Regions from separate parts of the Homo sapiens genome. Here regions 1, 2, 4 and 5 are each linked to region 3. Evidence: fine-mapped expression QTL. A gene starts in region 3. Each other region holds a variant in brackets. All regions are shown on one strand. Distances are between the middles of the regions.

Region 1 (6,565 bases), 69 kb after region 3:
AACAAAGTAACAGAAAGTAAAACCTAACACAGGAAGAATTCTAGGATTTGTGTAGGTAGGCCAAAAGGTAAAGGCCAGGCAGTTATTATAGTCAAGAGTGCCAAGAGTGTAGTCAGAGTCAGTCAGAAAAACAAACTCAGGGTAACAAGGGGAGTAAGAGAAGGTGAGGAACAAACCGATAGGTGCCATGGGATCATGATTCAAGAAGGAAACAGATTGAAACATCCACTGCAGAATTTTTCCCTCTTTCTCTGGTTGTAATTTAAGTTGGCCTGGGAAATACGGTGGATCTTCCCTATTCTGGGAACTGCAAACGTGCACCCAGTCCTTTTGAGAAACTAACACAAGCACTGATGTAGCTGGTTCAGTTTATTTCAGGTACCTTCTCTGATTTTTTTTTAACTTGTTCACATTAATTTCATGTAAATATCTTGCATACATTTGTAGTGGTTATAAGTACAACTTTCAAATCATAAAAAATATTAAGTAGTGAAGATGTCTTCAGTTTTTTCTTCATTTGCTTATAGAATATCCCTTTATTGAACTTTAGGCAGTATGTACTATTAGAAAGGAAAGGATGAACTGTGGGGTCAGACAAATCTGGGTTCATCTGTTTTTTTTTTTTTTTTTTTTTTTTTTTTTTTTAATTGAGACAGAGTCTCGCTCTGTCACCCAGGCTGGAGTGCAGTGGCACAATCTTGGCTCACTGCAAGCTCTGTGTCCCAGGTTCATGCCACTCTCCTGCCTCAGCCTCCCGAGTAGCTGGAACTGCAGGCACCCGCCACCACACCCGGCTAATTTTTTGTATTTTTAGTAGAGATGGAGTTTCACCGTGTTAGCCAGGATGATCTTGATCTCTTAACCTCGTGATCCGCCTGCCTCAGCCTCCCAAAGTGCTGCGATTACAGGCATGAGCCACCGCGCCCGGCCTCATCTTTTGTTTTAATCATTTACTAGTTATGTAGGTTTTGAAGAGTTACTTAGCCTTTCTTAGCTTCACTTTCCTTCATTTTTAAAATGGGGAAAAGAATACCTACCTTACAGGTTTTTTAACAGTATTAAAAGTGAGATAACATAAATTAAAACACTAAGGGTTTAATAAACAATATGTTTTTTTATGAGTGTGTTTGTATTTGTTTATATACGTACTTTTATTATAAATATAAATTATATGTCTTTAAAAGTGCTGTGAAATTAGATGCAGTATTTTCTTATGCAAATTAATAAACTTACATAAAGTTTATTTTCACCTTGATGCAATAGGGATGATAGTAAAATCTACCACTTTGGATAGTAATAATGTCTATCGTACTTGTGTAAAATCTATGTATTGTGGTATCATGAGATGTTCAGTCTTATTAATGGATATGAATTAGATGCCATTTTAGTTGAGCCTCACCATAGGTGCTGTGGTATGAAGTGAAGTATGTGGGCTATAGAGACGACCTAGGTTCAGGCCTGCCACCTACTGCCTCTGATTAGCCATATAGTTTTAATCCTCTTTTAGCTTTAGCATCTTCATCTTTGGAAATGTTACTTACCTGTTAGCACCATTGACCACTGTGAAGATTTAAAATGGAATGTGTTATGTATCTCCTATTTTTAAGGCTATTTGTAGTAAATATGTTAAGTGTGGGCTAATCTTTGAGTTTAGGGAGACCCCATTAATATAAATTTTTTTTTTTTTTTTTTTTTTGAGCCGGAGTCTTGCTTTGTTACCCAGGCGGGAGTGCAGTGGCGCGATCTTGGTTCATTGCAAGCTCCACCTCCCAGGTTCATGCCATTCTCCTGCCTCAACCTCCCGAGTAGCTGGGACTACAGGTGCCCGCCACCATGCCTGGCTAATTTTTTTATAGTTTTTAGTAGAGATGGGTTTTCACCGTATTAGCCAGGATCTTTGGTGCCTTCTTTGCACTTTTATGAATATAGTCTCTATTAGGCATTTTCTTTCAGAAGAGCCCCATTTTGTTGCAATTTAAGACTTGCTTTGGATGGTAGTCTTTCTCCTATAGTCTGTTTTCTCCTTTCTGCTATAATTATTTGGGTTTTAAAATCTACCCGTGTGGTTAATTATGGTAGCTATTTTCTACAGTTGAACCATTTTTGCAGTTCTGATTTAACTCTACTTACACTGTATTAGTCTTTTAATGTACTTTTTGCATTTGTTTGCTAATATGTGCTTTTGAAGTTTTTAAATGATGCAGATATCTAATTGGAATTTATAGCAAGTGCTTTAGAAAAATCAGCTGTTTAATTTCATTTTATTATCATTTTGCCAATTCAAAGTGCCTGTTTGAGAAAACCATGTTTTCTCATCTTACACTTTGAAGTTACACTGAAATTGAAATCTCCAGTCTTTCTCTGGCAGCCATTTTTAATACCTTCTGAACAGATAATCTGATAGGTTAATCTATAATCTTGTCAGCCACTCATCCTGAAAAACCTTTTCCAGCCATATCTACCAGCACATTTCCTCTTATCTGTTCCTTCCAACACTCTTTGCCCTGACATGCTGCCATAGGTTAACAAATGCCATGATATATATCCTAATTCATAAACCCCAGGAAACCTGACCCATTCATCTGTCTTTTCTCTCATTCATTTCTCTCCCTACCCTTAAAATACCTTACGAATCATGATACTTACACATATTAGGGGGCAAGTCATCCAAAGGTGCAAATTCTAATTACCAAAGGAGCAAAAAGTTAAACTGGAGTTAAGTTGCAGAATGTAACCATGCTGAGTCTCAGTTATCACATACTGAATTGTGATAGTTGAAGTTGAAATGTTCATGAAAAAATGAAAGTTGAAAATGTTCGTGAAAAATTCTACAGTTTTATGGGTCATTTGTTTAAAGTATATGCTAGAATGGTTTGCAGTTTTCAATCTTTTGACATATGGTAGGCACTCATTTTGCTTTTGTAGTTATACATTAGTTTGTGTTTTTTAGATTTATACATAATGAAATCATACAGTGTATAATCTTTTATTGGCTTCTTTCATGGAGCATGATTATTTTGAGATTTCATCCTTGTTGCTGCAGAAACCAGTGGTTCTTTTTATTCCTGAACAGTATTCATTGTTTGGCTGTATCACAATTAGTTTATTCAATCACCTGTTGATGGATATTCGAGTTGTTGCTAGTTTTTTGCTACTACCAATAAAGCAGCATGAGCATTCATTTACAAGTCTGTATGGATATATGCTGTCATTTCTCTTAGGTAAATAGCTAGGTGTGGAAAGTCTGTGTTGTGTGGTATATGGTATACGGTACATGTTTAACTTAAGAAACTGTCAAGCTTTTTCCCAAGATGGTTGTACCATCTTACTTTCCCACCAACAATGTATCAGAATTCTAGTGGTGGCAGTGGCAGCCCATCTGGAGCAGCTGCTGGGAAGACACTGGCTGCAGCAGGGGAGTTGTGGCTTGGGTTGCATGCTCCACAGGTGATGGGAGCCCCACCTCCTACCAGGTTAGTGGGGCAGAGGAGCCCCATGCTCCTGGGCGCAGTTGCAGCTGCCCAGCTACAGCTCTGGACCTGGGCATCCCTGCACTCTCAGGGGCCTGCGATGCCCCTTCCCCTGCAGGCTCGGAAGTACCTGCTCCACCTCCCTGGCCTCTCCCTGCTCCCAGCACCCGCTCCAGAACAGAGCAAAGTTGTGGCCGAGCCTAGGCACTGTTGCGACCTGGACAGGTGTGCCTGCACTCG[A/G]GGCAGTGCTGACACCAGCCCCTGCTGCCTCAGCCTGTTCAGGATTTTGGGCACCAACCAACACAGGAGTGAGGCTGGGGTGGGGTGATGGCTAAGGGCAGCTTGGCACAGGCCTACAGGTGTCCCCTGGCACAAACAGCCCATGCACCATGGATGCATGCTGATGGTGGGAGGCAGACATTCCTGTGCAGCAAGGGGCAGGTCTCAGTGAAACCCCCACCTCCAAGCCAGGGCCTACGTGAAGTCTGGAGGCCAGGTTGCCAGTTCTGGGTGGAGTCTGTGGCCGGGAGTGTGAACTTATGGTACTTTTTCCAGACATGCCCATGGCTGCCCATGGACCAATCAGCATGCATTCCTCCCTTCTGAGCCCATAAAAACCCTGGACTCAGCCAGACTGACACAAATGTTGGGACTACCAGCTATGGGAAGGAGCCACCCACTTTGGGTCTGCTCTCTGCTGAGAGCTGGACACTTGTCAGGAGACCTGTCTGCAGAATGGGGCTACCCACTGCCCATCTCCTCTCCACTGGGAGCTGGACACTCATTGGGATAACCTGCCTGCAGAAAGGGGCTACCCACTGTGGGTCTCCTCTCTGCTGAGAGCTAGACACTCATTGGGACAACCTGCCTGCGGAAAGGAGCTGCCCGCTTTGGGTCTTCTGAGAGCTGTTCTGTCACTCAGTGAAGTTCCTCTCTGCCTTGCTCACCCTCCAGTTGTCCACATACCTCATTCTTCTTGGACATGGGACAAGAACTCTGGTTCCACCAAATGGTGGATCTGAAACAGCTGTAACACAAACAGGGCTGAAACATGCCCTCCTGCCTGCCATGCTGCAGACCTTGAGAAGGAGAAAAGAGCTGCAGCCCTTTGGGGAGCCCAGACCTAGGTGCTCCCTAAGCCAGGGCTATGGCACCCTCTTTGGGACTCTCTGGTTCCTGGCATCTCCCACCTTCCAGGAACCACTGTGTTCCCCTCGTCCAGATGTGGGTGTCTGCAGTGGTAGTTGCATGTGATATATCTGGTCCAGCCACAGCCTTGCATGGCACCACCTGCCCTGCCACAGCTGGCACGCCTAGCTCTGCACAGTGGCCGGACCCTGTGCTCACTCACACACCGCTCACCGCACTACGCCTGGCTCACCCTTGGCAGGGTGAGATCTGGGCCAGTAGCACCAGCCAAGCACAGCCTGCCAGCTTGAGTGAGTGGAACGAGCCCAGGGGGCCTGAGCAAAACTCGGACAAAGGCACCACTGGCCACAGAGGTGTCTGGCTGGAAAAGTGACACCCTAAGGATTCCGTAACACTAGTTTCTCTGTATCCTCAATGGAATTATGAAGTTATGGTCAGTGCTTGGTATGGTCAGCCTTTTAAATTTAGCTGCCCTAGTGGATATGTAGTGATATCTCATTGTGGTTTTAATCTGCATTTTCCTAGTGATTAATGATCATGAGCATCTTCATTTGCTTATTTGCCATCCATGTATCTTCTTTAGTGAGGTATCTGTTCAAATCTTTGCATTTAAAAAAATGGATTGTTTTCCTTGTGATTATTGAATAAGAGTATTTTTATTTATTCTGAATTAAGCCCTTTGTCAGGTATATGTTTCATAAACATTTTTTCCCAGTCTGTGACTTTTCACTTTTTTTTAAACAGGATCTTTTGAATGGCAAAAATTTTAGTTTTGAGAAAGTCCAATTTATCAATTTTTTGGTATAGTTTTTGCTTTTTGTTTTCTATTCTGGAAATTTTGGCAAAATCAAGGTTACTGTGATTTTCTTCTGTTTTGTACTAGAAGTTTTATAGTTTTAACTCATTAAGTCTGTAATTTAATTTTTGGAGAATTGACATCCACTCATTTAATTTTTTTTTTTTTTTTTTAAGATGGACTCTCTCTCTGTCGCCCAGGCTGGAGTGCAGCAGCACAATCTCAGCTCACTGCAGCCTCTGCCTCCTGGGTTCAAGTGATTCTCCTGCCTCAGCCTCCTGAGTAGCTGGGATTACAGGCGCCTGCCACCATGCCCAGCTAATTTTTGTATTTTTAGTAGAGACAGGGTTTCACTGTGTTGGTCAGGCTGGTCTTGAACTCCTGACCTCATGATCCGCCTGCCATGGCCTCCCAAAGTGCTGGGGTTACAGGCGTGAGCCACCATGCCTGGCCCATTCAATTTTTAATTTCAGTTTTATTTTTCATCTAGAAGTTCTGTGTTTTTCAAATCTGCTTGATGATTCTGTCACTTTTTTCCTGGCTATATTTTCAAGCCTGTCTTTTTTTAAACCATGTTAAATTTTGCATTTTACAATCTGTGTAATAATTCTAGAATCCTTGTAATTTTATTTCTGCTATATGCTGTAATTGCTGGTTCTGCTTTGTGATGCTTTCTTTCCTTTTTTGTTCAGTTCTTAAGGTAAGCTTTTTATTTTGGTGGAACTTTGTGGGAATTCATTTAGGCCTGGACTGATGGTAAGTTGCTTCAAAGAGGATTTGCATTTGCTTCTGCTACACTCCCTTAGATACTACCAGTTTGGGATCACTTAAATTAAATTCTCGGCTTGAGTTTTTTTCTGACCACCCAGGTAGTGTGAATTTAGGCTGCAGACCAGACAGATGGCTTATAGTTCCATATTCTCATCAGTAGTTCCCCGCTACATCAGCCCGTGACTGAGTTTGAGATAGTCCATTTTCATTGTGATCTCCTGGGGGTAGAGTATAGTGAGTTATAGTTCTGTTTTATTCTTACACTGAGGGTTTAACCTAACTCTGGAGTCCTAGCTTTACATATGTGAGAGTAGGTGGGGGATCTTTTGTTAACATCTATATCTTAGGTGGATCCTGGGTTTTCTATTTTATTCTTCTG
Region 2 (6,565 bases), 860 kb before region 3:
TAACAAGGATATCCAGGAATTGAACTCAGCTCTGCACCAAGCAGACTTAATAGACATCTACAGAACTCTCCACCCCAAATCAACAGAATACACTTTGTTCTCAGCACTACATCGTACCTATTCCAAAACTGACCACATAGTTGGAAGTCAAGCACTCCTCAGCAAATGTAAAAGAACAGAAATTATAACAAACTGTCTCTCAGACCACAATGCAATCAAACTAGAACTCAGGATTAAGAAACTCACTCAAAACCGCTCAGCTACATGGAAACTGAACAACTTGCTCCTGAATGACTACTGGGTACATAATGAAATGAAGGCAGAAATAAAGATGTTCTTTGAAACCAATGAGAACAAAGACACAACACACCAGAATCTCTGGCACATATTCAAAGCAGTGTGTAGAGGGAAATTTATAGCACTAAATGCCCACAAGAGAAAGCACGAAAGATCTAAAATTGACACCCTAACATCAGAATTAAAAGAACTAGAGAAGCAAGAGCAAACACATTCAAAAGCTAGCAGAAGGCAAGAAATAAATGAGATCAGAGCAGAACTGAAGGAGAAAGAGACACAAAAAACCCTTCAAAAAGTCAATGAATCCAGGAGCTGGTTTTTTGAAAAGATCAACAAAATTGATAGAGTGCTAGTAAGACTAATAAAGAAGAAAAGAGAGAAGACTCAAATAGACACAATAAAAAATGATAAAGGGGCTACCACCACCGATCCCACAGAAATACAAACTATCATCAGAGAGTACTATAAACACCTCTATGGAAATAAACTAGAAAATCTAGAAGAAATGGATAAATTCCTGAACACATATATCCTCCCAAGACTAAACCAGGAAGAAGTTGAATCCCTGAATAGAACAATTAACAGGCTCTGAAATTGAGGCAATAATTAATAGCCTACCAAGCAAAAAAAGTCCAGGATCAGACAGATTCACAGCCAAATTCTACCAGAGGTACAAAGAGGAGCTGGTACCATTCCTTCTGAAACTATTCCAATGAATAGAAAAAGAGGGAATCCTCCCTAACTCATTTTACAAGGCCAGCATCATCCTGATACCAAAGCCTGGCAGAGACACAACAAAAAAAGAGAATTTTAGATCAATATCCCTGATGAACGTCGATACAAAAATCCTCAATAAAATACTGGCAAACCGAATCCAGCAGCACACCAAAAAGTTTATCCACCACGATCAAGTTGGCTTCATCCCTGGGATGCAAGGCTGGTTCAACATATGCAAATCAATAAACATAATCCATCATATAAACAAAACCAAAGACAAAAACCACATGAGTATCTCAATAGATACAGAAAAGGCCTTCAACAAAATTCAACAGCCCTTCATGCTAAAAACTCCCAATAAATTAGGTGTTGATGGGATATATCTCAAAATAATAAGAGCTATTTATGACAACCCCACAGCCAGTATCATACTGAATGGGCAAAAGCTGGAAGCATTCCCTTTGAAAACTGGCACAAGACAGGGATGCCCTCTCTCACCTCTCCTATTCAACATAGTGTTGGAAATTCTGGCCAGGGCAATCAGGCAGGAGAAAGAAATAAAGGGTATTCAATTAGGAGAAGAGGAAGTCAGATTGTCCCTGTTTGCAGATGACATGATTGTTTATTTAGAAAACCCCTTAGTCTCAGCCCAAAATCTCCTTAAGCTGATAAGCAACTTCAGCAAAGTCTCAGGATACAAAATCAATGTGCAAAAATCACAAGCATTCCTATGCACCAATAACAGACAAACAGAGAGCCAAATGATGAGTGAACTCCAATTCATAATTGCTTCAAAGAGAATAAAATACTTAGGAATCCAACTTACAAGGGATGTGAAGGACCTCTTCAAGGAGAACTACAAACCACTGCTCAAGGAAATAAGAGAGAATACAAACAAATGGAAGAACATTCCATGCTCATGGATAGGAATAATCAATATCGTGAAAATGGCCATACTTCCCAAGGTAATTTATAGATTCAATGCCATCCCCATCAAGCTATCAATGACTTTCTTCAAAAAATTAGAAAAAAAAAACTACTCTAAAGTTCATATAGAACCAAAAAAGAGCCCACATTGCCAAGACAACCCTAAGCCAAAAGAACAAAGCTGGAGGCATTACACTACCTGACTTCAAACTATACTACAAGGCTACAGTAACCAAAACAGCATGATACTGGCACCAAAACAGAAATATAGATCAATGGAACAGAACAGAGCCTTCAGAAATAATACCACACATCTACAACCATGTGATCTTTGACAAACCTGACAAAAACAAGCAATGGGGAAAGATTCCCTATTTAATAAATGGTGCTGGGAAAACTGGCTAGCCATATGTAGAAAGCTGAAACAGGATCCCTTCCTTACACCTTATACAAAAATTAGTTCACTATGGATTAAAGACTTTAATGTTTGACCTGAAACCATAAAAACCCTAGAAGAAAACCTAGGCAATACCATTCAGGACATAGGCATGGGCAAGGACTTCACGACTAAAACACCAAAAGCGATGGCAACAAAAGCCAGAATTGACCAATGGGATCTAATTAAACCAAAGAGCTTCTGCACAGCAAAAGAAACTACCATCAGAGTGAACAGGCAACCTACAGAATGGGAAAAATGTTTACAATCTACCCATCTGACAAAGGGCTAATATCCAGAATCCACAAAGAACTTAAACAAATTTACAAGAAAAAATCAACCCCATCAAAAAGTGGGTGAAGGATATGAACAGACACTTCTCAAAAGAAGACATTTATGCAGCCAATAGACACATGAAAAAATGCTCATCATCACTGGCCATCAGAGAAATGCAAATCAAAACCACAATGAGATACCATCTCACACTAGTTAGAATGGC[G/A]ATCATTAAAAAGTCAGGAAACAACAGGTGCTGGAGAGGATGTGGAGAAATAGGAACACTTTTACACTGTTGGTGGGACTGTAAACTAGTTCAACCATTGTGGAAGACAGTGTGGCAACTCCTCAAGGATCTAAAACTAGAAATACCATTTGACCCAGCCATCCCATTACTGGGTATATACCCAAAGGATTATAAATCATGCTGCTATAAAGGCACATGCACACGTATGTTTATTGCGGCACTATTCACAATAGCAAAGACTTGGAACCAACCCAAATGTCCATGGATGATAGACTGGATTAAGAAAATGTGGCACATATACACCATGGAATACTATGCAGCCATAAAAAATGATGAGTTCATGTCCTTTGTAGGGACATGGATGAAGCTGGAAACCATTATTCTCATCAAAGTATCGCAAGGACAGAAAACCAAACACCGCATGTTCTCATAGGTGGGAATTGAATAATGAGAACACTTGGACACGGGGTGGGGAACATCACACACTGGGGCCTGTTGAGGGGTGGGGGGAAGGGGGAGGGATAGCATTAAGAGATATACCTAATGTATATGATGAGTTAATGGGTGCAGCACACCAACATGGCACATGTATACATATGTAACAAACCTGTACATTGTGCACATGTACCCTAGAACTTAAGTATAATAATAAATTAGATAGGGTGTTTAGCCCACAAGCTGCCCATACAGGGACTAGGCAAAAGAGAACCATGATCACCATTATTCTGAGCAGTAGATTTTGCCACTGGGGAGAGGAGAATGCTCAAGGTTCACTTTCTGTCTTTGCAAATCGTTAACTGAACCATGGCTTTCCCCTCCCAACATTATGGTGGTGACCATGTAAATGATCTCACAGCTGTTGTGTAAGATATCTATCCTGCCTCAGGCACTACTAGGAGTAGGATTACCAGATAGATACAGGATTCCCAGTTAAATCTGAATTTTACATAAATTTTAGTATAAATATGTTCTAAAAATTGGATGGGACAGATTTCTAAAAAGTTATTTGTCTGTAATTCAAATTTAACTGGGAATCCTGTATTTTTATTTGTTAAACCTGGCAATCTTAACCAGCAGAGATCTGCTTAAAGAAACAATGACATATGTACAAATAATCCACTGCTGTTAAATCACCAAGTATGGAAATGCACAATAAGTACTATGGGTAGTTGTCAGCTATAGATCAAACAACCCTAAATGATCAGTGGCCCACAACAATAAACATTTCCTTAGCTCAGACATCTAAAGGTAGGCTGATTTAGGCTGGATTCAACTGGGGGAGCTTGGCCGAGGCAGCTTTGTTTCATGTGTCTCTTATCTTCCTCTTGGGAATAGTGGGGTAGCTTAGGCATACCCTTTGCTCGGGGATGGAAGAAGTACAAGAGGCCTTGGAGCTGGCACACCATCACTTCCATCTTATGTTATTGGAGAAAGCCAGTTGTATGGGGAAACTCAAAGGATGGTGAAACGTACTCTGCCCAGTTAGTGGGAGGAACCACAAAGAAAGATAAAAGGTCTCGATATAGGGGATGAAGAACTGGGGCCAATCAGGCAATGTACCATAGGAGTCAAGAGGTCAGGGCTCAGGGTCTCATGCCTGTAATCCCAGTACTTTGTGAGGCTGAGTCTAGAAGATCGCTTGAGCCCAGGAGTTCAAGACCAGCCTGGGCAACATAGTGGGAATCCACCTCTATAAAAAAAAAAAAAAATTAGCTGGGCATGGTAGCATGTACTCGGGGTCCTAGCTACTTGAAAGGTGGAGGTGTGAGGATCGCTTGAGCCCACTTAAGTGAGCTGTGATCTTGCCACTGCACTTCAACCTGGGTGACAGAGTCTGACTAACTCAAAAAAAAAAAGGATCAGGGTTGATGTGCCTGGAGTAGCTGAGGAAGGTTTGGTGGAAGAGGGAACATGAAGGGTGGGTGGGATTTGGGTGAGAGGAAAGGATCAGCATGAGTAAAGTGTCAATTGATCCTCATCATCTGTTGCCTTCTGTTTCTCCTCTCTGCCCTTCCCCTAGGAGGCAGACCTCCATGAAAGTGTACTAATTCATTAAGCAGAGCAATGTATTCCAAAGCAACATACAGTCTAGCATTCTCATTTCCCTGTCTCTAGACCCCTGTCCTTTAGGGAACTTCCCAGAAGTGGAGGAAACAGGTCTTACGAGCCTTGGGTCGGTTTGGCACTGGTGACAGTATGAAAAGAGCTTCTGCTTTCTCTGTTGAGTTCAGAGAAAGGAAGTGTATAGTAAAGCCATATGCAAGGGTAAAGGAGACAAGAACACGTGGGAGCCCAGCAACAGGGATGAGGGATGAGCTGGCCTAGCAGGGACTGTGCTGGATTCAGGGCAATTCTGAGACCAGCAGCCAGAGTTGGTGCAGCTTCACATGTGCCTTGTCATTCGTATAACTCAGCTGATTTCGGTGTTTCTGCTTCTCCGTGTCCCCTCACTTCCCATCAACAGCCTTCCTCACCCCCGTCAACCCACAACCTCCAACCTCATACTTCACTGTAGGCAAGGTTCCTGCTTCCTCCTGACTTCAGCTTACTCATAACTTCAGCTTCTAATGGTTCTTCATAGCCTCAACTGTATGGCCTCTCGGTATGCCTTCTGTGTTGTTTGTCCTACTTAAGTCACTCATGATTTCCTGGTAGACCTTTCCAAGGGCAGGAATCAGAATAACCTGGCTTATCTCTACTGGGACAGAGCTTTTCATTCTAGGGAAGCCTGTTATTGGGCTACCATGTGATCCTGTCTCCCTTACCCCTGCAAATGGCTTTACTATAAACCTTTCTCTGAGCTCAGTGGAGGAGGCGGAGGCTCTTTTCACACTGTCACGAGTGCCAAACCAACCCAAGGCTCATGCAACCAGTCTTCTCAACTTCTGGAAAATTCCCTGAAGGACTGGTATCTAGAGACAGGAAAATGAGAATGCTAGACTCTGTGTTGCTTTGTATTGTTTTGGTTAATGAATTAATGCAGTTTCATGGAGGTATGCCTCCTAGGGGAAGGGCAGAGAGGAAACATAGAGGCAACAGATGATGAGGATCATTATCAGATGGGGAAGGTGCCCAGCCCAGTTCAGTCTGGTGAAGTGGAAGGATGGGGAGGGCAGGGTGATACGGCACAGTGCACAGCAGCCTCGGATTGTCTGTCAGCAGGAGCTGCAGATGGGTCAGTTTCCCTTAGAAGGGACAGTGGGAGTAGCAAGCACCATGTTGAAGATTGATGGGCACATTCACAGAGCAACGTATCAATTCTAGATTTCACAACCAGATGAGAGACTTGTGTATTAGTACAGCGCGCACAGGCTTTCATGTACATTATCTCATTTGATTCTCACAATGCCCTTGTGAGGCCATTTAAAGCAGGTACAGTGATGCTGCCTGATAAACAAGAAAATCGAGTCACTCGGGCAGATGAGGTGATGCGTCTCTGCATGCAAAGGATGTTAGTGGTTGAGCATTCCATGACTGGAATGCAGGCTTCCCATCTCCTTTCCCTGTGTCTTTATACAATATTACAAAGATGGTCTTTGGGGCCTGTAACTCTTCAGAGGTGAGAGGATTTTCTGCCTCATAAAAATTAGCATATCCATAGAGGTGTATTACAGCGTTATTTGTAACAGCAAAAGACTGGAAACAAATTTCCACCAGAAGGGATCTGG
Region 3 (6,565 bases):
CCAAGTCTGAAGGTCTCAGAACCAGAGAAGCCAATGGTGTAACTCTCACTGCATGGCCAAAAGCCTGAGAACATGGGGCTGAGAGGGTACACTGATTTAAGTCCTGGAGTCCAAAGGAACATGCAGTTCTAATGCTTAAAGGCAGGAGAAAAAGTGTGTCCCAGCTCCAAAAGAGAGAGAAAGAAAATATTCCTTTCCTCTTTGTTCTATCTGGGCCTCAGCCAATTGGATAGTGTCCACCGAAATTGGGTGAGGGCAGATCTTCCTTACTTAGTCTACTGATTCAAATGTCAGTCTCTTCTGGAAATACTCTCACAGACACACACAGAAGTAATGTTTTATCAGCTGTCTGAGCATCCCTTAATCCAGTCAAGATGACACCCAAAATTAACCATCACACTGATTGACTCTCAGAGATAAAATGTTTGAATTTTCATAAGTACACTTGATTTTTAAAATGGCAACCCACCTTCTGTGTCAAGAGCTTTAACTTACTTTTCTCATAAGAGAAATTTGTTTGTACTCTAGACATATTATTGGGTCCAGGAGTTAGTGTACTATTTTTAATGAGTACCTATTATATGTCAAGCATTATTAGGCACTGTGTGGGTGGCGGGAGAAGGTGGAGAGGGGAGGAAAATTTGTTTTTACTTTAGACATGTTTTTGGGTCCAGGAGTTAGTCTACTATATTATTGAGTACCTATTATATGTTAAGCATTATTAGGCACTGTGTAGGTGGAGGGAGAAGTTGGAGAGGGGGAGATAAAAAATTACCAAGAGTTAGTTCCTAGATCCAAATATCTATTAGTAGGTGAAACAGTTGCATCTATTAATATATTAAGAATTTTTGTTCTTATGAAACTTAGTTTGAGGCCAATAGAGAGAATAGCTTTGTTATGTTTCAGGTGGTTAGACAGTACTTTATTTAGAGTATTTAGAGATTCGACAGTTCTGGAGCACCTTAAACATTGAGAGTCTCACTGGCCACCATAGTGGAGCGAGAAAAGGTCTTTGCTTTGAGTTTGTGGTACAGCTGGCCATCTGTATCTGCATTCATGGATATGGAACCTGCAGATGTGGTGGGCCAACTTTTTCTATCACTGATTGGTTGAGTATCTGTAAATTTTGCTATCTGTGGGGGGTCCTCAGACCAATCCCCTGTGGATAGACAGCAAATTGTATGTGGATACCTTTCAGAGTACTTGCTTTGGAGTAAAGCAGATTATTGGATTTGAATCTCAGATCTACAATTTATTAGCTGATGTGACCTTAGATGAATTATTTAACTTCTTTATACCTGGTATTCTCATTTATAAAAATGGTTTAATAGCAATATTGCATTGGGGTAATATGTGAATTATATACATAAATACATCTAAAAGCATTAACTTAGTGCCTGGCACAGGTAAGTAATCAATAAAGGTAAGTTATTACTATTATTATTACATTTGCCCTGGGGAGCTAGAACCCATAGGGGAAGGACTTGAAAACAGATAATAACATACAAATGATAATGTATCAGTGAATATCATGGGAAGAGCTATATACTTTGGAGGGATAAAACAACCTCCATCAAATCCAAAACATGTTTTCATTACTCCCAAACCCTATTGCATAGTCTCAGGTGGGTGTCCGGATTATTCCAGGCTTTCAGTCTAAACCCATGAATTTCTTGGAATTCAGCACTTGAGATCCAAAAGTAAACAATAGATTGGGCAATGTCCTAGACAGAAAAGGCAGTTTTTGTGGGAGGGCCTGTTTTATACTTAAGTGATTACAAATTTTCCTTGACAGCGTGTAGTGGGAGTGACTCTCTTATAGAATTCCAAGGGAAATATTCTCTGGACAGTCCTTATTGGCCTTTAGAGTAGGCCACTACCTACATACTTTAATTTTAGAGAACCTGCTTCAGATTTTATTTTCCCCAGATGTCTGATGTCTAAAATCTTAACAGGCTATTTATTTTTGTGATTTTTTTTTTCTTCCCCAGCTGTAAGGCAAAAATCCCTTGTGGGGAGAGGAAAGTCAAGCTTCAATGCTTTGCTGGCCCACTCTTACTCTCCTCCTCACTGTAGTGTGGCTACTACCTGCATACCCAACCCTTGAAGCTAGACTGTTTTGCTTGGGTGTCTGTTTCCTCTGGCTGTATCTGGTTCCTACTCTTGGTCGTAAATTCCTCCAGGGCAGGACTTATGTCAAAAGACTTTGCAGTATATTAGTTCACCTTTACCCTTACTACCTCTGCAATGATTGGAATGTCCCCTTCAAAAATTCAAGTTGAAACTTGTCATTGTAATAGTATGAAGAGGTGGGACCTTTAGGAAATGATTAGGTCATGAATGAGTTAATTCCATTATCACAGGAGGGTTAGTTATTTCGGGAGTCAATTGGGTTCACATGCCTCCCCCACCCCTACCCCAGTATGATGCCCTCCATCATATTTTGACACAACAATAATGCCCTCTGTCTTGGACTTCCCAGCCTTCAGAACTACAAGCCAAACAAATCTCTTTCTTTATAAATCTACCAGTCTATGGTATTTGGTTACAGCAGCAGAAAATTGACCAAGACAACCCCTTACCATAAACCTGAGTAGCAAATGCAACATCAAAAGTAGGTGAATAGTAAGTAGTACATTATTGTTGTTGATTTCTATGATCTGGTTTCTCTTCCCACAATCCTGAACGGTAAGGTGTTCTCTAGTATTTCTTCAGGACCATAAATTGTGAAGGAGACTGTGATTGTAGTAGACAATTCTAGGCCTTCTGGAACCATCACTAAAGGCAACATACGACTGTGCTAATTAAAAGGAAAAAAAAATCCCTAAACAATCTCGGAAACTGATCTTTCCTGGCCAACAATCTCAGATATAGAAGATTAGATTTACTAAATTTAGAAAGAATCCTTTTTTTTTTCCCCCAATCACAAAAATTATCCAGTAAAATCTATGCTCACTTCCGGTAGATCTGCAACAAGGCACGGTCACAGGTCATTTCAATAACTTGCTAGGCTCTTCAGTACTCAGAGTCCCTGGAAATAAGTCATTAGCAGTGGAAAGCTGCTTTTTAGAATTTTCTAAAACAAATCCATGGGGTTTTGATCTGCTAAATTCGAATGTAGACAACAGCAGCCTTATTTCCCTACTTTTATAATCTAATTTATTTGGCTGTATCTGTGGGCTTAAGAGTTTAGTGTTCTTGGTAAATAACACGTAAAAAAAAAGTCATTTTTCATTTCTACGAACCAGCCCCACCCCGGCGCTCCCTCGGGATCCTCGCTCTAGCCCCGCCTCCGTCCAGCCTGGCTCCGCCCCGTTCGGTAGCGCCGCGCCTTGGAGGTCTGTGGCTAACTTGGTCCGGAAGAAGCGAGGCGGACCTTCTGGCGTTTGAAAAACTTCCGGCGGGAACCGGAAGGTGCGGTGGCACTCACGGAATCTCGGGTCTTCTGACGTGCCGGGCGGGAAGGTGAGCTGTGCGTGCGCCTTGGCGGTCGTCTTGCGGGTTCTCAAGAGCCCGGCGTCCGGGCTCCGGGATCTTTGGGGCCATTAAAAAAGTTCTGAGCGCTCATTTGGGCAATAACACCCCTTTTTTAAAAGTGAGAAGTTCATTACATTTTACTGTCAGCGGTCTCTCACAACCGACCACCCGAAAACCCCTCCTAGCTACCTCGTGACACCTCTTTTCAGCCAAATTGCTGCAGCTCTTAGCGCATAACAGACATAGAAAAGCCTGGGCAAGCCTGTTTTTTTTTTTTTTGAGACGGAGTCTCCCTCTGTCGCCCAGGCTGGAGTGTAGTGGAGCGATCTCGGCTCACTGCAAGCTCCGCCTCCCGGATTCACGCCATTCGCCTGCCTCAGCCTCCCGAGTAGCTGGGGCTACAGGCGCCCGTCATCACACCCGGCTAATTTACCTGGATTGTTTTTATACCTAAAATTATCGGAGGTGGGAGAGGAAGCACCCTTTTCACGGTCATGGTGGCCCTGTCTGAATCAACTGCACCTTCTGTAGTGCGCCTGGCATGTAGGAGGCGCTCAGTAACCGGAGGAAAGGAATGAATTGGGAACTCTCTAGGCAACTTTCCTCGAACCCCTCACGTGACATGTCATTAACATATTGTGTGTGGAATGGGAAACGAGACTAGTCTTGGTGTTCCAGGCACTGGGCTATAGTCCTTTGCCACATATCTTTCCCCTTTGAGTAAACTGTTTCACCTCATTGGGTCTCAGATTTCTGAATATAGCGGGACTGTCTGATCTCAGGTTCTTTCAGCTCTAGTATTTTGTTTTTGTGACTTGGGAATCTGCTAACATTCAAGCACTCTGTTGGTCCTTCATGGAAACTTGTTTAGGTGCTTCTTAAGAAATTGTCCTCCTTTGTTTGCCTTCTTGAATTTAAATTTTTTTTTCCAATTTTAATTTAGTATTTGTTAGTGTGCACGTCCTTTTGCCCCTTTGTCCTGATTTGCAGTCGTCCTAGTTTAGTGGCTCTTCCCTTAGTAACATCATAGCAACCTCCAAATTATTGGTTTGGAATATGCTCATGTGCCTACAGTGATTAAGATAGTTTGAAAGGAGGGAAAAATCCCAAGTCACTGAAGAATAGGAATATTCTTATGTGCCATCACTTCTTCAGAAAGAGATGAATGCAATGTGTGGCATTGCCTAAGAGTGGTGGAAAATAAATGTATATTCCTCTGTAGAGACCATATTTGTACATATTATGTTCATTTAATAGTTGTAGGGCATCTGTTAAGTGCTAGGTTCTATGATATGGAAGTGAATAAGGCACATGCATTTCCTTCTTTCATGGTATTTACTCTCTTGACAGCAGTGCAAGCAATAAACAAGTAAAATAAAAATAATTACAGATTGTGTTATAACCTACTGTATACAGGAAGTAAATAGGCTCCTTTTAAAATATAATTGAGAAACCTATTTTAGGCCTGAAATGTTAAGATCTAAGGGATGCAAGGAGCCAGCCAATTGACAAGCAGGGGGAAGAATACTCCAGGCAGAGAGTACCTGAGGTGGGAAAGAATGTTATGACAAGAGCTGAGGAGCTCCAGCAAGTAGTAAAGGTGGTTAGAAAGGTGAGCAGGGCTCAGTCCGACAGGGCCTTTTCAAAGGCCTCATAAAAATGTGGCTTGATTCTAAGTGAAGGATGGGGTGGGAAGTAATTCGTTGTTTCTAAAGCATATTCTAAATGATCTTGAGTTGATAAGTGGAGAATGAGTTGCAGGGGCAAGAGTGGAAGTAGGGAGGGCAGTTAAGAGGCGAGTGTGGTAGTTCAAGTGAGGGAGGTTGAGGACTAAAGGCTCACTGAAGATCGTGGAGATTCAAGACATTTTGGAGGAGGATCTTATGTGACTTACTAATAGTCTGGATATGTGAGATGAAAGAAAAAAAGATTTGTAACATTTTGACTTAGCAAATGGAACTTTGGAGGATGATAATGTGTTCATTTTCTTGATTGTAGTGATATGTATACATATGTCAAAACATCAAATTTGCACACTTTAAACATGTGCAGTGTATTGCATGTCAATTATATGTCAATGAAGCTGTTAAAGAATTTTCTGGCCAGGCGCCATGGCTCACACTTGTAATCCCAGCACTTTGGGAGGCCGAGGCAGGCAGATCACCTGAGGCCAGGAGTTCGAGACCAGCCTGGCCAACGTGACGAACCCCGTCTCTATCAAAAATAGAAAAATTAGCTGGGTGTGGTGGTACACGCCTGTAATCCCAGTTACTTAGGAGGCTAAGGCAGGAGAATTGCTTGAACCTGGGAGGCAGAGTTTGCAGTGAGCTGAGATCACTCCAGGCTGGGTGACAGAGTGAGACCGTCTCAAAAAAAAAAAAAAATTTTTTTTTTCAAGGTTCTGGCTTAGCAAATAGGTGGGTGCCACTTATTGAGATGGGAAGGACTGGAATAGGAACAGGTTTTAGAGCAAGAAATGGTCATCAAGAGTTCCATTGTGGATGTGTTAAGTTAACTGTGAGACATCTAAATAGTTTCAGAGACAGGCAGTTTATTATAGAAATCTGAATGTTAAAGGCACGGTTTGGGATGGAGGGATTAGGATTGTTAATAAGTAGGTGACATCGGTATGTAAAACCGTGGAGATGGATGAGGTTTTGGTTAATCTAACAAGTTTTATGACACAAAGTAAGAGGATATGGGAGTAGTGGAGATGGAGAAACAGGCCTCAAGAATATTGGTGTTTAAACTGGAGAATACATACTCCTGGGGGTGTACCTGTCGTAGGTAGTTTTAAAGACATAATTTCCAAGTCTTCAGCTTTTGTATATATTCTTTCTAAATCTGATCTGCTTGAAATTGGCTTGTGTGTTCATGCAGATTCTGCTTTCCCACCTTTCCTTTTACATTGATATTTTTAACATTTGTGAAAAGAAATATTACAACTCACTCATCTTTCCATGGTATATTGCTTTCGGGGTGCCTTATAAAGAGGCAGTTGGAAATATTTGATTTAGGGGAGCCTTCTTTAAGGATAATGGTTAAGCAAAAACATAAGCCTGCCAAGGGTTTGCCTGTCCCTATTTTA
Region 4 (6,565 bases), 250 kb after region 3:
GATGGTGAGTGATTTGGGAAGAGGAGCTGGGAAAAAAATAACTCATAAAACATCTCGACTTAAGATATACTTCCTGGCAGATTGATTTTTGGAAAGAATACATAAAGAAATTGAGAACATGGAAATTGATGCTCTTAAAACTATCTGTGCTTACATACCCTTAGGAAAGTCTTTGCCCCGGGGTATGTATTCTTCATTTAAGACTATTAGCGTACAGAATAGAAATGAGAAAAATAATGAAATGAAATGAAAGCAAATGAATGAGTAGAAAGGCTTAGAAGAGAAATGATAGTTACGGAAGACAAGCCAAGGGGTTCAATGTAGGGTCTTCAAAGAAGGCAGCAGAAATAATGGACTGAACAAATATTTAAAGGTAAAAAAATCTTTCCTGAAATAAAAGAGAGGTATGAATCTTTATATGGAAAGGACACAGCCAGAAAAAAAAATGAGCCAATATGGTCAACTCAGAGATATATCCTCAAAAAATTACTGAACTTCACATCAAAGAATCCTTTGAGAAGAGAGGAGAAAGAAAGAAAGGAAGAAAGAAAGAGAAAGAGAAAGAAAGAAAGAAAAAAGGAAGAAAAAAGAACAGAAGAAAAAGAGAGAGGGAGAGAGAGAGAAAGAAAGAAGGAAAGAAAGCAATTGATTTCTTATAGGAGGTAATATAGGGCTTTAACCGACAAGCCTCAGAGTGACTAAAAGACAATAGAACATACTTTCTTGAACTATCATTCTAATACTGTACTAAAGCAACCAACAAACCGTTTTGAATATATGAGAACATAGTGGAGGGAATATTATTTCATTGAGCTTTTTTGATGAATAAGAGCATGCATTTTAATTACCTAGGAGAAGACTGGAAAACTTCAGGAAAATAATCTGGTGGTGAGCCCTGAGTCTATTTAACTGCAGAACTAAAACTAAAACAAATGTAGGGTTTTTGATAACAGAAGAGAATGTAAATATAAGCATAGATAAACCAAGAGATTGTGAAAAAGCATTAAAGTAATAAAAGTTGGGAGGTGAAGGGATAAACAGATGTTACAAGTACAACAAAATCTTTAAAATCTGGGAGGTCAAAAGATAATAAAGATGTGAATATCTTTTTATAATGATTAAAAACACTTTTTTATGGAAGTAAAACACATATATAAAAATACAGAAATTCTAAGTATACATATTGTTGCATTTTCACAAAGTGAAAATACGAATATACTCATATATAAAGGACCCAGATGGAGAACTAGAACATTATGAGAACACAGGAGCCTCCCTCTCACCTCTTTACAGTCATTATGCCTCCCTCAAGGGCATCCACTGTACTTATTTCTAACTGAAGTATTAGTTTTGTCTGTTTTTGTATGTTATATAATTAGATTAATGTACTGTGATGTGTCTGGTTTCTTTTGCTCCATATTATGTTTTTGAGATTCTTTCATTTTGTTGCATATAAAAATAGCTCATTGATTTATTATGTATGTAGAGTACTCAATTATATGAGTATAGCATAATTTATTTATACACTTGACTGTTGATGGGCATTTGGGCTGGTTTTAGTAGGAGGTTATTATAACTAATTCTGCTGTGGACATTCTTATATTTGTCTTCTTGGTGAACGAACATACGCATGGTTTTCTGTGGGGAAAAATTATTTGAGGGGAAAAAGAAAAGTATTAATTAAATTTTTTAAAAAATAGTATCCCTATCATATAAAATGTAAACTCTGACTATTGATTTAACCAAAAAATTATAATATAACTATAAAAAGAAGATGAAAGAAAGGAAGGGGGTAGGTTGAAGAGAGCTTTATCTACTGAAATAAGAAATTAATAGGTAATGTCTAATATTAATAAATCAGGAAAGAATATTGTAAAATATTGTATTATAAAGCTGGTTTTAACATTTAACATTTATAACATTCAAAGCCAGCTCTGCTATTTAGGAATTATGGGATATCAAGTACTCAATTTCTCTGTGCCTCAGTTTCCCAATTTGCAAAATGGTGATACAATCTCACAGTGTTGTGCTGTGCTGCTAATAAGATAATGATAACATCATCTTAATGAAATATCAGCTAGTATCAAAGTGAACAACAGTTGTCCCAAATCCCATAGCTAGCCTGGAATCCTCATATCTGTGGTACAGTATGAATTTAGAAATTGCCGGTTTGCAGTGGGATATGTTCATAACTAGCCCTGATCCAAATTATTTTAGATAGGAAAATATGAAATTCCAAATTCTAGCATTTTCCATATATATATTTATTTTTACTAACATCTTGAGCCAGTCAATTTAGTAGAAGATTGTGTTTTGAAATCAGGCCTGTCAGTGATGTTCTAGATGTCTCCCAAAAATTACAATGAAAGGAATAAGCTCTGACCAGGTTCTTTTTCTTCCACCTGCTTGTTATTTCCAGGAGTAAGAAGGCAGGAGTGATCTATCCATTGCTGGTCTCTTGGAAGGAGATGTTAATTAGCAATGTTATATAAAATTCAGATGCAGGAAAAAGGGTAGAAATCAAAGACCTAACACCATCCATTTGGAATTCCTGCAGCACTTTTTACCAGGTCCATACCACTTTTCTTACCACTTTATCATAAACCATTTTTTTGTTTTTTGTTTTGTGCTTATGGCTCTATTATTTCAGGGTATGGATTGTATCTTTTTCACTAATCCGTGTCAACGAGTATTTATTGAGTCCCTACTATATATTGACTGTGCTAAGTGAGGGAGCAAGAAAGATGATTTAAAAATTTTCCTATCCTGAAGGAGCTTAAAATCTAGCTGTGGAGCATTTTTGCACTAAGAATTGACTCTACAGAGATATCCACCAAAGTTCTCCAAGTTACAGTTA[C/G]AAGGATATTCATTGCACCATTGTTTGTAGTAGGAAAATAAGAGGGGTGAGGGGACAACTTAAATGTCCATCAATACAGGACTGGTTAAATTGTAGTTCACCATACCCCATCAGCCTTTCTTAACCCACGTCCTCATCCAAACCCCAGAAAACAGAAAGTGTTTTGAGTGACTGTTTTCTTAATTCTCCCAAGCGTTGTATGTGACTAGTACCATTCTGAATGCGTAGGAGAAAACGTAATTCCAGATATTCATTGCTGATTTAAAGTGCTTGGGCTTAATTCTTTCATAGGACCAAAGTTAATATGGAAATATTTCCAAGTGATACTGTAAAGTGAGAAAAAGATATAAAGTGAGAAAAGCAAGATGGACCACAAAGTATATAATTAATGTCTTCTGTGTAAATAAAGAAGCTACTAATATAGTCTCTTACATGTGCAGAGGGTTAGGTGAACTAAGGCTGGATACTGGGCTCAAAGCCTTGAGCACGGAGATGAGAGACAGGAGTGGCCTCAGTTCCTGGGAGTTGAGTTCGTGCAGGTACAGGCCAGGGAGGCAGGTCTTCTGTCCTTGGCACCAGCCAGCCCTGGCCTTTCTTTCTTGCCTCAGGCCCTTTTCCATCTCTTAGATGGGGCCCCACTAATTTGTCAGTTTGGGGATGAATTTAGTGTGTGTTCCACTGGCATGAAGTCAGGAGGAAAATAAATCCAAGGGAATTTCCATTTGGTCCTGACTCCTACTCCACATGGCCCCTGCCCCATCAGCCTTACCCTGGGGTTGGGTTTCAGATGGTTCCTGTGCATTTACAAATAAAACCAGGCTGCTCTGTGCACGCTTGTGAGGTGATGCCTGGGGCCTCGCACGGTTGGGCCAGAGATTGATACGGTGTGTGCACGCCTGGGCCAATCCAACCCTTTTGATCTATTTCTGAAAGCAGCTTTTTGCCTCCTGCTTCAAGTGATTGATTAAGTTAGGATCTCTTTTAGGAATTCTCTCCACTCATGCCTCCTCACCAGCTTACAATGAGCCCTGCCAAATTTTACTTTCCTTTTATGCTGCAGATTGTTCTGTTCCAAGTGGGTAAATGGAAACTGTGTTCCTAAGATGCAGCCAGTTACCTTGGAATTCCTGTTCTCCATTCCGTATGGTTCAGGCACCCTCTTATCACATCATCAGTCATGTTTCTAGCTGGGTTCTGGCCTTATGGTTAGGGAGCAGCTTTGCTTCAGAGCTTTCCTTCCCCTGCGGGCTCCCCCACTCCCACTTTGGTGTGAGAATCATGGGGAACCAGGGGTGACACCATTTATTTTAAAACAAGCCAGCACACATGTTTGTAGGCTTTTTAAAGCCATAGACTGTAAGTGGACACTTCCGGTGTTCCTCAGGCCCCAGCTGGAGAAGTGGCCCTTGGTTCCATGGGTCCTCGTGGAATGGGGATCCAAGGTGATTAAAAAGCACCAGCTTTGCGGCACTCAGACCTGTTGCCACTCCTGCCTCCAAGCACGGTGTTTTCTTGTAAAAACTGGGATTCAAGTTTTCATCTCTCATGAGTGGTGAGGAAGATGGACATAAACAATTAGAAGTATAAGCACCTTCCCATCTCCATTTTGAAGTCCTCCTTCTACCTCCCAAACCTTACATTGTCTTCTCCAAAGTGGCCATCCTGCAATGCCAGTGAGCCTGGCCCTCAGGGAAGGACATTGCCAGAGCTCTTTCCTCCTCCTCCTCCCCTGTGCCCTCTCACAGCACCCGGCTCACTGTATACCAAGCATTTCTTTCAGTTTCCCTGAGTTGGTGAAGTCTTGTTGAAATGATCCAGTGTGGTCTCAGTTCTGCTGTAAGAAATTGGAGCTAGGGTGCAAGTGTTAATAGTTCAGAGGTCTTGGGGCAGGGGTAGGGGAACTTTGAGACAAGAATGAGGCGGAGGAGGAAAGGCCCAGCCACACTTTCTCAACCTTGCAAAACCTGAGTTTTGCTTTATGAAGGCAACTAGTCATTCTCTTTATCATCTGCACTGTCCTGTTAGCAACTCTACTGTTTTGGTTTCTTTTGGGGACCATTTTTCCCCCACAAAGAAAGGCCTTCCTACAAATCTAGGGCTTTTAGTTTTAAAAATTACTCCATGAGAGTTACTACGTACGTGATCATAAGTATAGTAATATGGCATTAAGTTTAGAGGTTATTTATCCATTCACTAATTTACTCAGCAAATATTCCTTGAGTGCCTCTTATGTACCAAACACGATTCAAGCCCTAAGGATATAACAAATAACAAAAAAGACAAAATATCTACCCTCATGGGTCTGATATGGGAAAGATGTCAACAACGACAGCAAAATAGATAGTTTCAGTTAGTGACAATGAAGAAAAATGAACAAGGAAAGGGGGTGAAGAGTGATGAGGACATGGGGAAGGGAGAGTAGATGGGCTAGATCCTCTTTGGAAGGTATTTCGGTGGACACGAGAGTGAAATGAGGTTGGAACTATACAAAGACCCAGGAGAAGAACACTGAGGAGGTAGAAAGGTCCAGAGGCAAGAAACAGGGCTCAAGGAAAAGCAAGAAGGTCAAAGTGACCAGAGCACAGTATGCAAGGAAGGCATGGCAGGAAATGAGGCCACACTGGGCGGGGCATTGTAGTCCACAGGAGGAGTTTGGGATCTTATTCTAGGCATACAGTAAAGCCACGAGAGGATTTTGAGTAGTGGAGTGACATGGTTTGATTTATGGTTTTCAAACATCACTATGACTGCTGTGTGGAGAACAGACTAGTGAGGAGAAAGGAGGAAGCAAGAAGACGCACGAAACGGCAGCAGTAGCCCAGGCAGGTGGGGTTGGCTGGCTTCATACACTGCCGTAGTGGTCAAGGTCATGAGAAGCCATCAAATTCAGCGTATCTTTTGAGTATGGAGCCAACGGAACTTGCTGAAGGATTGCATATGGGGTGTGAGAGAAAAGTGAGTACTCAAAAATGACTCCTAGGATTTTGGCCAGAGTGGCTGAACAGCAATGCTATTTCCTGAGAAAGGGAAATGTGGAGAGGGAGCTGGTTTGGGATAGGAATCATGAGATGTGTTTTGGACGTGTTGACTTTGGGATACTTATCCGATATCCAAGTATCTGGAGCTCAGGAAGAGTCTGGGTCTGGAGCTGTAAATATAGGCATCATCGTTGATCAGATGAGGGCCATGGGACTGGACAGAGTTACTCAGGGAGGTGGAGAAGAGGATAGGTCCAAGGACAGCCATAGGGCTCTCCAACACTTACAAACCTGGAAGTGAAGACCTCACCTGAGCTCACCCTTCCTGGTCTCATGGTTTTGTGGGAATCTCCACTTGGTTTCCTAGCCCCCCATCCAGGATCAAGTTTTACATCTTGGTGGCTTAAGGCTTCTGCCCATGGGGACTTTGGAGATCTCACGGATCTAGTCCCTGGCCCAGGTCCTGGTGGCCTTCTTGTGCTCTAGTCAGAAGCCCTGGGTTCTCTTCACAAGCACGGAGCCTGTGTCTGGACCTAGAATGAACACACTGATGGCTCCAGTCCTAGTACTGTTTCCATGTTATACCTGAACCACAGAGTTGATTATTTTGTGACAGGAGACATGACTATTTTGTGACACTTTGATTTTCCCCAATGCCATGTGTTTGGTAATATGGGGCGGGCCATCTAGGAGGCAAGGGACGTTGCTGTCCTGACTGGGGAACCAACAT
Region 5 (6,565 bases), 140 kb after region 3:
TCAGCTTTCATGGAATTGAAGAGAGTTAGGACCTTGCTCAGGATTACACTTTGGCTTAAGGGAATGTTGTGGCTGGTTTAATCACTCAGACTTTCTCCATATCAGCAAAAAGCTGTTTTGCTTTCTTATCATTTGTGTGTCCACTGGAGTCACACTTTTAATTTCCTTCAAGAACTCTTCCTTTGCATTCACAACTTGGCTAACTGACCCAAGAGGCCTACCTTTCAGCCTTTCTTGGCTTTCAACATGTCTTTTGAATAAGCTTCATTATTTCTAGCTTTTGATTTAAAGTGAGAGACGTGCGACTCTTCCTTTTACTTGAACACTTAAGAGGCCATTGTAGGGTTATTTATTGGCCTGATTTCAATACCGTTGTGTGTCGGGGAATAGGGAGGCCCCAGGAGAGGGAGGGAGGGGAATAGCCAGTTGGTGGAGCAGTCAGGACACAGACATCATTTATTGATTAAGTTTGTTACCTTATAGGTGTGGTTCGTGGTGTTCTAAAGCAATTACAATAGTGATATCAAAGATCATTGGTCACAGATTATCATAACAAATATAATTAAATTTTGAAATATTTCTGAGAGTTACCAAAATGTAACACAGTGACCAGAAGTGTGCCCATGCTATTGGAAAAATGGCACCAATAGACTTGCCCAACTCAGGGTTGCCGCAAATTTCCAACTTGGAAGAAATGTGGTGTCTGAGAAGCACAATAAAGCAAAATGCAATACAATGAGGTATCCCTGTATTCTTAAATTCTTGACTTGGTTTACTGTTGTGGGGGTTTTTGTTGTTGTTTTTACTCAGAGTATTTTGGCAATGTATATGTGTTGAAAATCATTCTTATTGCATTACACATTTAAATGTTAGGCTAAAGAAATAATATTTGCTTTAGAGAAATTCAAGTATATCTCTACTTTAAATCTGTAATTATAAATGTGGTTATTAGAAGAAAGCATTTCTCCTATCACCTGCAATGCTTGCACTAACTAACCTTTTGTGATTGATTTCTTTAAATAATAAAGGTTTATGTGAAGGCCTTGGAATCCCCGTCTCTTCTGGGAGAAAAATAGATTGTGTAACGCCAGCTCAGCGTTCTCTAAGCTTGCTTTGCAAGGAGCTATTGTCACTATATATTAGATGTAGTAATAAAGGATGTGAAAAAGACTTGAATGATCATGTGTTGAACTTGATGTTCACAGTAGATAAGTAGATCTTATGTCTGATTAGAGAAGTGGTACAAATCAGCGACTGGAGAATCTGAGAGTCACTTGCAAGAGATGACTTTTGTTTCCAGACCTTGAACAGCTTAACATGGAAACAGGCATAGGATTTTCTTTGATGGTCTTAATATTTTCACTTAATGAATTTATATTTCATCTAACCTGTATGAGAAGGTGACACTGATTAGCTTCCATGTGTTTTGAAAATGGAAGCAGTTCATATATATATAAAGACTCAGTGTAAATATGCTACTGGAGAGGGAGGCTGCCTTTAGAACTATTCATAAGAGTTGTAATAGTTATCTTTTTTTTCTAGCTAAATCTATCTTATAAACGAAATTAGATGTGAATTTTTATTGATATTTGGTAAAAAAAAAAAGGACAATAAATGACGAACAAGTAAAATCATGACACAGTTAAAGGAATGTTTGAAATTAACTCTAAAGTTTCTTGAGCATGGATTGTAATGGTCAAGAAAGGGATGTAATTAGAACTATGGTGTGTTAAGAGACAAGCAGTTGGGACAGAAGGAGGATCACTTGCCAGGGCAATCTTGCAGTCATATTCAAGGCCACATGAGTATATTCATTAGCCAAGTAACTTGATCTCTGGTTGCATTAAGATATGATTCTGCTGGGCGCAGTAGCTCATGCCTCTAATCCCAACACTTTGGAGGGGTGAGGCAAGAGGATTGCTTGAGCCCAGGAGTTCAAAGCTGCAGTGAACTGAGATGGCACCACTGCACTCTATCCAGGGTAACAGAGTGAGACCCTATCTCTAAAAAAAAGGAACTTTAAAAAAGGAGGTAATTCCGTCACTTGTTCATTATTTGGGGGATCGAGTTCTAATAAGCATATTTGACATATAAATATATTTGTAATAATGCAGAATTATTTAAAACAAGGTTTTGCTTCCTCTGTGAAGCATGAGGTATCCTATTATGCTTTACGTAAAGAATGAAGAATGAATAGGTAATCATGTAAGTATAGGGAGTAAACGTTTTATTTGTTTTTCCAAATCTATAATCCTGTCAAACTACTTTGTGTTCAAGAATGCCTAGGAGTTCTGATGACATAATTCATGAAATTTTGCATTTACTTTTTGTGTGGGGAAAAAAGAGAACTTTGAAATTTAAATTGTTGGCCTTTTTTAGAGGGATGATGAGGAGGGACAGGATTAAGTACTTACATTATGAGAAACTAATGTAAGTAATTATTAGGTACTGCTTTTCACATTAAGTCATACTTGTTTTCTG[A/T]TTCTGTTTTTTCAGTTTCCATAGCAAGGCGTGTACAAGATCCATTAGCTGAGCTAGTGAAAATTGAGCCAAAGCACATTGGAGTTGGAATGTATCAGGTAAAGCTATGTGGATCATTTAATTTATGAAATCCATCAATACAAGGAGCAGTACTCAAACCTGGGATAGTAATTAAGTGTCTGTGGGAGTAGATTCCCATTTTCAAGGTTATACAGTTTGTGGAAAGTAGGAGTTTTAAGTCATCAGGGAAGGAGGGAATTATTTTTGTCATTGTTGTTCTCGTGTTAATGATTTTGATTAAGACTTAGAATTGACTGTGGTCAGATTGAAAGACTATGAAAACACTAGATGAAACTAATAACTAATTTGGAGAGAGAGCCTCTTCTTTTAACATTATTATAAAAATGGTGGTGCTATCTAAAATAATTACAATAGTGATATCATGCATTGAACTTGATCTTCACAGTAGATAAGTAGATCTTATGTGTGATTAGAGAAGTGGTAGGTAATAATAGTACTCGTTTTTGTTGTTACTGTATTTTTAATTCTTGAGGTTGTATGTGTTCATTGGGCAATTCAAGACAGCACTAAACCTTGGCAGAGTGAATTTATGGTGATAGCAAAATGGTATGTGGGGAAGTTGTCTCCAGAAGGCTTGGGTCACATTGTTTTCCTCCTTGTCAAAAGCTATTAAATGTGAAATAGAGTATTTCCTTCTGTATAATTTTTATGGGATTTGAATGATAGGTACTATACTACACTTTTTCTAAAGAAATATATTATGTCATGGAATCTGTGACTACTAGATATGGAAGACACCTTAGAATTCATGTAACCCTACCCCCCTCATTTGATAGAAAAAGAGGCAGTGTCCTGGAGTACTTAAGACATTTACCCAAGATCTCATGGTAGCAAAGCTTAGATTAACCTGTCATATATTGAGATTCAACTGGGAATATTTCCATTTTATAGCAAGTTGGACTAAGGCATTCAGACCTTTAACTGGACTTACTCATTTCAGAAAGATAGTTGCTAAAGGGACTGATCTAGCTACAAGTAGATAGAAATGACTGGTATCTAAAGAGTACAACTGGCTAGGTGCAGTGGCTCATGCCTGTAATCCCAGCACTTTGGGAGGCCAAGGCAGGTGGATCACTTGAGGTCAAGAGTTTGAGACCAGCCTGGCCAACATGACAAAACTCTGTCTCTACTAAGAATACAAAAATTAGCCGGGTATGGTGGCGCGCACCTGTAGTCCCAACTACGTGGAAGGCTGAGGCAGGACAATCGCTTGAACCCAGGAGGCAGAGGTTGCAGTGAGCCAAGATTGTGCCACTGCACTCTAGCCTGGGTGACAGAGCGAGACTCCATCTCGAGAAAGAAAAAGTACAGCTATAACAGTTTTGTGATATAGGCATTATAGTGAAGAGGAATTATATTCATTCAAGATAAAGTTATGGAGCATCTTGGCAAGATAGTGGAATAAAGAGAAGATTCCAAATTTATGAAACCTGGGCAGGCTAATAAGCTATTGACTTCAAAGAGATCTTTAAGTAAATAGTGGAGACCTAACCTCCAGATTGGGATTCAGAGATAACGTTTAATGTGAAAGACTTTGGGATTCATTTTAACAACAGTGAGAAGTAATAGAAGAGGTTTAAGCAAGGGGGGGTGGCACAATCTGATTTATATTTTTAAGCATTGGCTCTGGCTGATCTGGGAAGAGTGACTTAGGAAGAAGAGAAGCAATAGAACAGCTAGGAGGCTCTTGTACTAGCCCAGGTGAGAAATAATAGTGCTTGGACAAAGTTAATGGCAGTAAAGATGGAAAGAAGTCAAGTCTGTTTTGCAGGGTTTGTGTGGTGATAAGTGAGGGAAAGGAATTATGAAGAACTTGCTCCAAGGGTTCTGATATGTGGATGATGCTTGAGTAGAGCAGGTTTGGTGGGTTAAGATCAGTAATTCAGTTTTAGACATGTTAAGTTTGAGATGCCTATAAGAAATCCAAGGAAAGATGTCAAGTAGGAGTTGGATATATGAGTCTGAGATTTAAAAAAATAGCCATATTAACATTGGACTACTCACTGTTCAGCAAATAATGAAACTAAGAACGTCATCAAGATGGTGGGCTGAATTAATGATATTCTTTAATTACACTACCATCATCAGCTGCATATTCAGAACTCCTAATTCCATGAGTTGACAGAAAAGGTGTACATGTGTACCTATATAAATACATATTTATTTGAATAAATTGATAACAGCATGGGAAAACAAGAAAGGGTCCCTCCCATTAGTGGATGGAAATCTCAGGAATTCCTGACAGATACTAAGCATGGGGAATCACACTCATGGAGAAATAAAACCTGGTGGAGTCACAGTTCAAAACATATACAGATCATTGTGTATCATTATGTTCTTGAGGTAGGTGCAGTTCCCGGTAGAGCCAAACTAGTCAGATTCAAATAGTAGGGAGAGGGTCTGAAGTATTAGATAAGAAGATACATATAGCAAAGCTAGGCCTGTACTGACCTCCTCCTCCAGTATACTGTGAATCCAAGCTGAAGCACTGACCTTAACATAGGCCAGAGAGGCTGGGAGATAGCTCAAGAGACCTTCGAATGTCAGGAAGCTCAAGGAGCCTCATCCTGAGAAGATAAATTCCTGCCATGTACATGACACCTGGCATGATGTCCCACATTTCCCACATTATCACCGGAGGTGGGGAATAGTAAACAGAAACAGCATACACAGACAGACAGTTAGGGACTCTGAAACGATCTCACTACCAAGAATGATTAAACATTTGAGGAAAACCTATGGTAGACAAATGAGGCACCAAACTTAATAAACAAAAAGTAATAGCGAGTGAGACAATGAATAAGTAACAGAGACTTTGAAATAAGTAAAAGTAAGATTCATAGAGAGAAAAGAGATTATTGCATTTATAAAGAAATATGTATTAAAATGAATTCAAACCAATCAAATATCTTAGAATTTAAGAATGTAATTATCAGGATTAAAATGCATAATTGGACTAAATAGAGTGGACACGGTTAAAAGCAAATTAATGAATTGGAAGGTTGAATTCCTTCAGAATGCAGTTTTGAACTGAAAAAGGTGGAAAGCATGAACAAAAAGTCACATGATACAGAGGACGTTCTAAACCTTCAGCGTTCATCTGATGTAAAATTGAAATAGTATGGAGTTATAATCACAGAAGTAATAGGAAATTTTCCTGAACTGAAGACAGACAAGTCTTCTGAAAACACCTTATGAATGCAGAAGTAAAGAATAACAAAAGGCCAACACTAAATTCCTGCTTATGAAATTTCAGAATACGTGATAAAGAGGAACTGACTAAAAGTATTCAGAGAGCAAACAGTTTATCTGCAAAGGAAAGAATGAGATTGACAACAGTCCTATTATTGATAAAAAATAAATGATAGAAGATAGAATGCAGTAGTTGTGGAGTTGTGGGAAAAAACATTTTGAACTCATAATTCTAAATCAGGCAAACCATCAATTTAGTGTGAGTGGAAAATAAAAACAATTTTGAACCTTCTCTGATTGTTTCACACCTTCTTTGAAAGAATTGATGGAAGTACTCCCTTCCAAAAAGCAGGGGAGTGTCCAAAGAAGGGAAAGACATAACATGGGAAACATGTACACACAGTAAAATGTATAGTTGAGCCTGATAGTTTTTAAAATCTATAATGTTAATCTTTAAATATTTAAGTCTAGATCAGATCAGTTCAACATGGGAGAGTAGAAGAAAAAGAAATGATAAAAAGTATTAAGATTCTTTTTCAGGAAAAAGATTCAGATATAAATTAACTCTAGAATTTGATTAAAAATATAACCTGAAACATATGAAGAACAACCACCAATAAGATATTTAATATAAATCATGAGAGTAAAATGTAAAAAGTTTATAATTTCATCCAAAGGTAGAGAAAAGAAAATAAGAAAGTATAGGAAATAAACAACAAAATATAAGGAGATAGGAATAAGTAATAGGTATTTAAAAGTGAATGGGCTAACTTCCCCTATTAATAGAACTTAAGACTTTAAAAAATAAAGT

Alleles and levels. Alleles are on the strand shown, and positions count from the first base shown. SD is a standard deviation of normalised expression in the study named. Not every link is listed here.
In carriers of allele G in region 2, the expression in prefrontal cortex of the gene that starts at base 3,417 in region 3 tends to be lower than with A alone (moderate effect, 0.45 SD a copy in ROSMAP).
For the expression in monocytes of the gene that starts at base 3,417 in region 3, G is the high allele of the variant in region 4 and C is the other (moderate effect, 0.68 SD a copy in BLUEPRINT).

What was found. PIP is the estimated chance that this variant, and not a neighbour inherited with it, causes the effect.
Region 1: its variant is the best candidate, but not a certain one, in a credible set for the expression of SRBD1 in T cells (TOPMed, PIP 0.59).
Region 2: its variant is the best candidate, but not a certain one, in a credible set for the expression of SRBD1 in prefrontal cortex (ROSMAP, PIP 0.89).
Region 4: its variant is the best candidate, but not a certain one, in a credible set for the expression of SRBD1 in monocytes (BLUEPRINT, PIP 0.58).
Region 5: its variant is the best candidate, but not a certain one, in a credible set for the expression of SRBD1 in whole blood (TOPMed, PIP 0.59).

Annotation. Positions count from the first base shown.
Region 1 is chr2:45,539,364-45,545,928 of GRCh38, reverse strand. The region is part of intron 14 of SRBD1 (S1 RNA binding domain 1); the gene reads left to right. Among named protein-coding and RNA genes, the nearest start is that of SRBD1, 69 kb to the left of the region's middle. The variant A/G (reference allele first, on the strand shown) is at 3,711.
Region 2 is chr2:46,469,044-46,475,608 of GRCh38, reverse strand. No RefSeq gene overlaps it. Among named protein-coding and RNA genes, the nearest start is that of TMEM247, 7.2 kb to the left of the region's middle. The variant G/A (reference allele first, on the strand shown) is at 2,877.
Region 3 is chr2:45,608,119-45,614,683 of GRCh38, reverse strand. SRBD1 (S1 RNA binding domain 1) reads left to right here and starts at 3,417. Exons shown (of 21, transcript NM_018079.5): 1 at 3,417-3,465. RefSeq lists an enhancer at 3,597-3,766.
Region 4 is chr2:45,355,875-45,362,439 of GRCh38, reverse strand. No RefSeq gene overlaps it. Among named protein-coding and RNA genes, the nearest start is that of LINC01121, 100 kb to the right of the region's middle. The variant C/G (reference allele first, on the strand shown) is at 2,858.
Region 5 is chr2:45,473,007-45,479,571 of GRCh38, reverse strand. It overlaps SRBD1 (S1 RNA binding domain 1), which reads left to right. Exons shown (of 21, transcript NM_018079.5): 16 at 2,497-2,579. Among named protein-coding and RNA genes, the nearest start is that of SRBD1, 130 kb to the left of the region's middle. The variant A/T (reference allele first, on the strand shown) is at 2,482.